Regions from separate parts of the Homo sapiens genome. Here region 1 is linked to region 2. The links come from fine-mapping of genetic effects on gene expression. A gene starts in region 2. The other region holds a variant in brackets. All regions are shown on one strand. Distances are from middle to middle. Region 1 overlaps LOC124901244 (a long non-coding RNA gene). Region 2 holds the start of FAM217A (family with sequence similarity 217 member A).

Region 1 (2,915 bases), 290 kb after region 2:
TGTGCGTTCCTTGAGAGTAGAGGCTATGTCTAATATCTCTGTTTCTGGCATAGAACTGAACACATAAGCATAGCTTAGGAATATTTGTTAACTGGGTCATCAAGGTGTCTGACAGGACGAAGTAAGTTTGGTTTCTAACATAGTTTTAGATGTTCTGAATTCTTCTAAAAATAATACATTTGAAAACAACCCTTTATTTCAAACAGTGGTTTATCTCTGACTCTAAAACTGATGGATTTCAAAGTACATGGTTTCTTGACCAGGTTTTTAAGGTGGCTCATTACTCTACAGACACAGTCTTAAAGCGGCTTCCTCAACGGCTTGACTCACTAACCTTGCTGAATGTCCATGACGAGTAGAACTCGGTGTATTCATTTTTTAACTGATACATAATAGTTGTACATATTGATGAGGTACATGTGATATTTTGATTTGTGCATACGATGCTTAATAATCAAATTAGAGTATTTAGGATAACCACCGCTTCAAACGTTTCTCATTCTCTGTGTGTCCTTGATACAAGTAATTTCTCTTTTAGAAATTCAACCTAAGGAAACCAAGCAGAGTCCACCTTTAAGCCCAGGATGACAGGAGTGACGACATCTGCTTTGACAAGCAGTCATAAAAGTATGTTTTTAAATAAATTCCAGCTTCATGGGAAAATTCTCACAATATAATATTAAATTAAAAAGCAGGATATAAAATTATCTACAGAATATACAGTATAAACCCAAGTGTGTAAGGAACACACACAACTACGTCAAGGCAACAGAATTGCCATTTGTAGTTGTGGAATTCTGAGCAATTTTATTTTCTAATGCATTTTTGTCACATGTGTGAATATATTACAAAAAGTTTTTTCAAAAAATAGGAAATTCCAGTTGGGTACGGTGGCTCACGCCTGTAATCTCAGCACTTTGGGAGGCTAAGGCAGGTGGATCACTTGAGATCAGGAGTTCAAGACCAGCCTGGCCAACATGGTAAAACCCCATCTCTACTAAAAATACAAAAATTAGCTGGGTGTGGTGGCATACGCCTCTCATCCCAACTACTGAGAAGGCTGAGGCAGGAGAATCACTTGAACCTGGGAGGCGAGGTTGCAGTGAGCCGAGATCACACCACTGCACTCCAGCCTGAGTGACAGAGAGAGACTCTGTCTAAAACAACAACAACAAATAAAAATAGGAAATTCCATGAACAAAATTAAAAGTGAAAAATGACACCAAAGAAAATTTTTGCAAGTGAAAAGTGACACCAAAGAAAAATTTTGCAATATACATGAGTCATAAGGTTGCTGTCCCTCATTTATAAAGAACACACATATATCGAAAAGCAAAATATTAACACTTACATAGAAAAATGGTAAAATACCCTGGGGCAGAGATCAGCTCTCCACCAAAACCTGCTTCCCTTTCTCTGCAGTCCTGGCCTTACGCTGGGTCAGCCTGCTCAGGACACTATGTTTTCTGTGTCTCTTGGAGTCTGGTGTGAGTTTGAGGTTCAGCTCTCTCCAGTGGAATGTGACAAAAGTGGGGTGCATGAATTTTATGTCTGGCCCCAAACCCTGGTAAGCAGGTTATAAAACAGTTAAATTCCATTTCCAAAACTTAGTATACAGTGCTGTCAGCACTTTACTGATACGAGCTCATTCCATCCTAACAACAACTCCGTGAAGCAGGAGAGGATCTCCCCACTTTAGAGATGAGAAAGCTGAGGCTAGAGACAAAGTTCACTCTGTGGCATGTGGTCTATTTCTGCATAGAAATGACGTGAAATGTGATACACACTAAAACATTACAGTGCTTATTTCTGAATTCTGACTACAAATACTGTGGTAC[A/G]TATGTTTTCTCAACAAACGTACCATCTGTAATTACACGTGAAATTTTTAAATAGTAAAAAAATTTAAATGACAGCAAAATAATTAGAGTTTTATGGACACTAGATTGCACAATTTAAGACAGTCGGCCAGGGCCGGGCACAGTGGCTCACGCCTGTAATCTCAGCACTTTGGGAGGCCGAGGCGGGTGGATCACCTGAGGTCATGAGTTCCAGACCAGTCTGGCCAACACGATGAAACCCTCTCTCTACTAAAAATGCAAAAATTAGTAGGGCGTGGTGGCGAGCGCCTGTAATCCCAGCAACTTGGGAGGCTGAAGCAGGAGGATTGCTTGAACCCAGGAGACGAATGTTGCAGTGAGCCGAGGTTGCACCACTGCACTCCAATAACTTTTAAGAGGAGTAGATTATATGTAAACCATCCCCATCTCCCTACTTTTTTTTGGTAATTCTAAACACAGAAAACACAATTTTGTCTGCCAAAATTGTAACCCAAGTGTATTAGTCCATTCTCACACTGCCGTGACGAAATACCGAGACCAGATAATTTATAAAGAAAAGAGGTTTAGTTGACTCACAGTTCTGCATTGCTGGAGAGACCTCAGGAAACCGACAGTCATGGCAGAAGGCAAAGGAGAAGCACGTACCTTCTTCACCGGGCGGCAGGACAGAGTGAGTGCAAGCGGGGAAAGGCCAGACGCTTCCGAGCCCGTCAGATCTCGTGAGAGCTCACTCACCATCACGAGAACAACATGGGGGAAACCGCCCCCATGATTCAATCACCTCCACCTGGCCCCGCCCTTGACCCTTGAGGATTATGGGGATTATAATTTGAGGTGAGATTTGGGTGAGGACACAGAGCCAAACTGTATCCCCAAGTCTGAAAGCTTTGAAAGGAGGACAGAAGGGCTGACAATCACTGGGAGGTCACAATCCACCCTGATCCTTCTGTCTAAGTGATATGGAACTGTGCCCCATTTTAAACCATCCTGCCTCCCAAAGGCTCCCACAGTGTCTTAGACACGCAACAGAAGGTGCTCGGAACTGGATATCCCTTGGCATGACGAAGTCAACAGCAC
Region 2 (2,915 bases):
CCGAAGGAAGAGAGGGCCCTAGAAGGGAAACCTCCAAGGAGGCTGCAAGGAATGAGGCCTGCACAAATCTTGTTCGTTCACTTACATCGATTGTGCTTCTACCACTGTGCTTCTACTATGTGCCCAGCACAGTTTTAAAGGGTTGGGGATACAGAAATGAACTAGACAGACAAGGCCCCGGCCCACATGGAGTTTGATATTCTACTGGGGAGAGACAGACAATACAAAAACAAACAAGTAAACAGCAAGATTATGAGGAGTACAAAGAAGTAAATAACAACGGGGTGTCATGAAATAGAGTAAGGTAGGTGGAAGGTGGGAAGAGCTTCTTTAAAGGGAAGGTCTTTCTGAGGAGAAAATGGAAATGCAGAGGAAAGAGTCAGGAGTCAGGGATCAAAGAACCTGAGAAACCCCTGACATTGTTTTCAACATGTGGTATATAAGTGCATTTTTATGGGGAGATTCTCAGAGGGACATGGCCGTGATCTCATCCCCCCAAATGTTTAGTATTCATTTGCTGTACCTAAATATATAATTAATTTTGTTTTAAATTTTTCTCTATATCAAAAGGTGGGGGTGATGATAGCTATGCAGATATATCTAACTAGATAGAGAGAGATTCTTCCCCCACCCCTCCACTTATTTCATGAAGCTGTAATAGGAGATATGCATTTCGGGGTACAAAATTGGGCTGTGTGATTTACATGTATCCTCTACATGAAAAAAGAAAAAAAATCATCTTTTGTTTTTCCTATTGAAAGGCCGACGACGGACCTGAAACTGACCGGATGAGCTTGGTGTCAACAAGGATGCCTCTTCTTCTATGTTAATATATTGTACAAGCATAGATATAACTTCACATGTATCAATGCGTATATATTGTAGCTTAGTCTGGAGGACTACGTACCGGGCGGTGCTCCTGGCTTGATGTGAGCAGGCGGTGGGAATGGAGGGTGGAGGCGGGTGGGCCGGGCCCCGGGTCCCAGAGGCCCACTGGCCATGTCGCGGAGAGCTCAGCCTGGAGAGGCCCAGGGAAGGGCCTGGAGGCCTCGGGGAAGGCCTGGGGAGGGTCAAGGAAGCCCGAGGAGGCCCAGGAAGGCCGAAGAAGGTCCAGGACGCCTGGGGGAAAGTCCGAGAAGGCCCGAGAAGGCCCGGGAGGCTCAGGCTTTCCCGCGAGGCCGGGGGCGGCCCCTTCAGGCCAGGATGGCCGAGTGGGCTGCGCAGCCCCGCGGGGGAGGCCGGGCGGGGCGCAGGGACAGGGCCTGAGGCTTGTTGTCCTCCCCTGGCGGCCCCGTGCGTCCCGCGGGCCCGGCGGCCGGGTGACCCCCGAGAGGCTCCGCGCCTGGGCGGCCGGCGGCGACCCCGCGGCCCGCGAATACGCGTGGACCTTGTGGAACGCCGGGCCTCCCCGGGCGCCCCCGCTCTCTGGTAGTTGCCGGGAGACCCGGCCGGTGGGGAAGCCCGCGGAGCCGCAGCCCCGGCCCCGGAAGGTCTCTCTGGGCCCCGGGCCCGACTCCCACCCCTGCGCCGGCCCGCGGGCTTCGCAGGCCCTGCACTGCCGACCGGGCTGCGCTCAAGGCCGCCAGCCGCCCGCCGCCCTCTTTGTCCCCCCGCTGCAGGAAGGCCGCGGCAGAGGGGGCGCCCTCCAAGCCGTCAGCCACGCACGCGGAGGCGCTCGGGCCTCGGGGCGGCGCACCGGGAGAGCACGCCGGGGAGGACACGTGGGCCTTCGCGCGGTGGGTTGAGAGCCCCGGCCCCGGGGAATCCCGCAGCCCCCTCCTGCTACCCCTGGAACTGGGCTCCCCACCCAGTCCGGCCACAGCTCAGGAGGAAAAGGGGATTCCTCTTCACGGGGGCCTTGCGGCTCCCTTGAGACACGCGCCTTCAAGCACTCTGGCCCCTAAAGCTCCTGTCCCCCAACTCGCAGTCCCCAAGGCGTCCTTTGTCCCCAGGGCCGTCCTTCAGGTGCGGTGGCCTTTTCCAGGAGCTGGATGCCCTCCTTCTTGACACACACCCGGTGGCCCCAGGCAGCGCCACCTGCTCAGCAACCGCCTTCCTCCTGCATTCAGACCTAGTGTCTGGCATGCACACACTCGTGGACCAATAACCGGTGTTGGCTGAAAACCTACCTAAACTAAATCTCCTATTTCTTCATACACTTTTCTGTAGGAGACAATCAATTGTAAACGATTAGCAGATAGACCGATTACTGCGGTGGCTTTAATTTGTGATTCTTGGCCGGGTGCAGTGGATCACGCCTGTAATCCCAGCACTTTGGGAGACTGAGGCAGGTGGATCACGAGGTCAGGAGTTCAAGACCAGCCTGGCCAACATGGTGAAACCCCATCTCTACTAAAAATATAAAAATTAGCTGGGCGTAGTGGTGCTCGCCTGTAATCCCAGCTGCTCGGGAGGCTGAGGCAGGAGAATCGCTTGAACCCGGGAGGCGGAGGTTGCAGTGAACCGAGATCGCGCCACTGCACTCCAGTCTGGGCAACAGAGCGAGACTCTGTCTCAAAAAAAAAAAAAAAAAAAAAAGTGATTCTTTCCAGATAGCCATACCTTAATCCAGTGACTGTTTTGCTTGTTACCTTAGAGTTCTCTAATTCTTTTACCTTAAACGGCAGTGGGTTAAAACCCTTTAGGTACCTTGATTGATTGGTGCGGAAAATATTGTTTGGTCCTGGGGGCATTTTGTTGTCTCCGAAATATGCACGGGGTGCTTGCCTGGCCTAGTTGTAAGGGTTCAACCCTGCTTTCAAATGGAGCAATTGTTTTGAATGAATAAAAGGAGACTTTGTGCCCCTGTTTTCTAAGTTCCAGATAATTCACCATAGTTTGTTCCAATGTGTATTTCATCTTCTTAGCTGATATTTGCTTTCTCACCTCTGATCTCAATTTCCTAATCTTCTGTT

What was found.
Region 1: its variant is fine-mapped to the expression of FAM217A in testis (GTEx, PIP above 0.99).

Annotation. Positions count from the first base shown.
Region 1 is chr6:3,784,707-3,787,621 of GRCh38, reverse strand. LOC124901244 (a long non-coding RNA gene) reads left to right here. Exons shown (of 2, transcript XR_007059412.1): 2 at 1-663. Among named protein-coding and RNA genes, the nearest start is that of PXDC1, 34 kb to the right of the region's middle. The variant A/G (reference allele first, on the strand shown) is at 1,839.
Region 2 is chr6:4,077,673-4,080,587 of GRCh38, reverse strand. FAM217A (family with sequence similarity 217 member A) reads left to right here and starts at 1,451. Exons shown (of 7, transcript NM_173563.3): 1 at 1,451-1,736. It also overlaps the pseudogene TEX56P.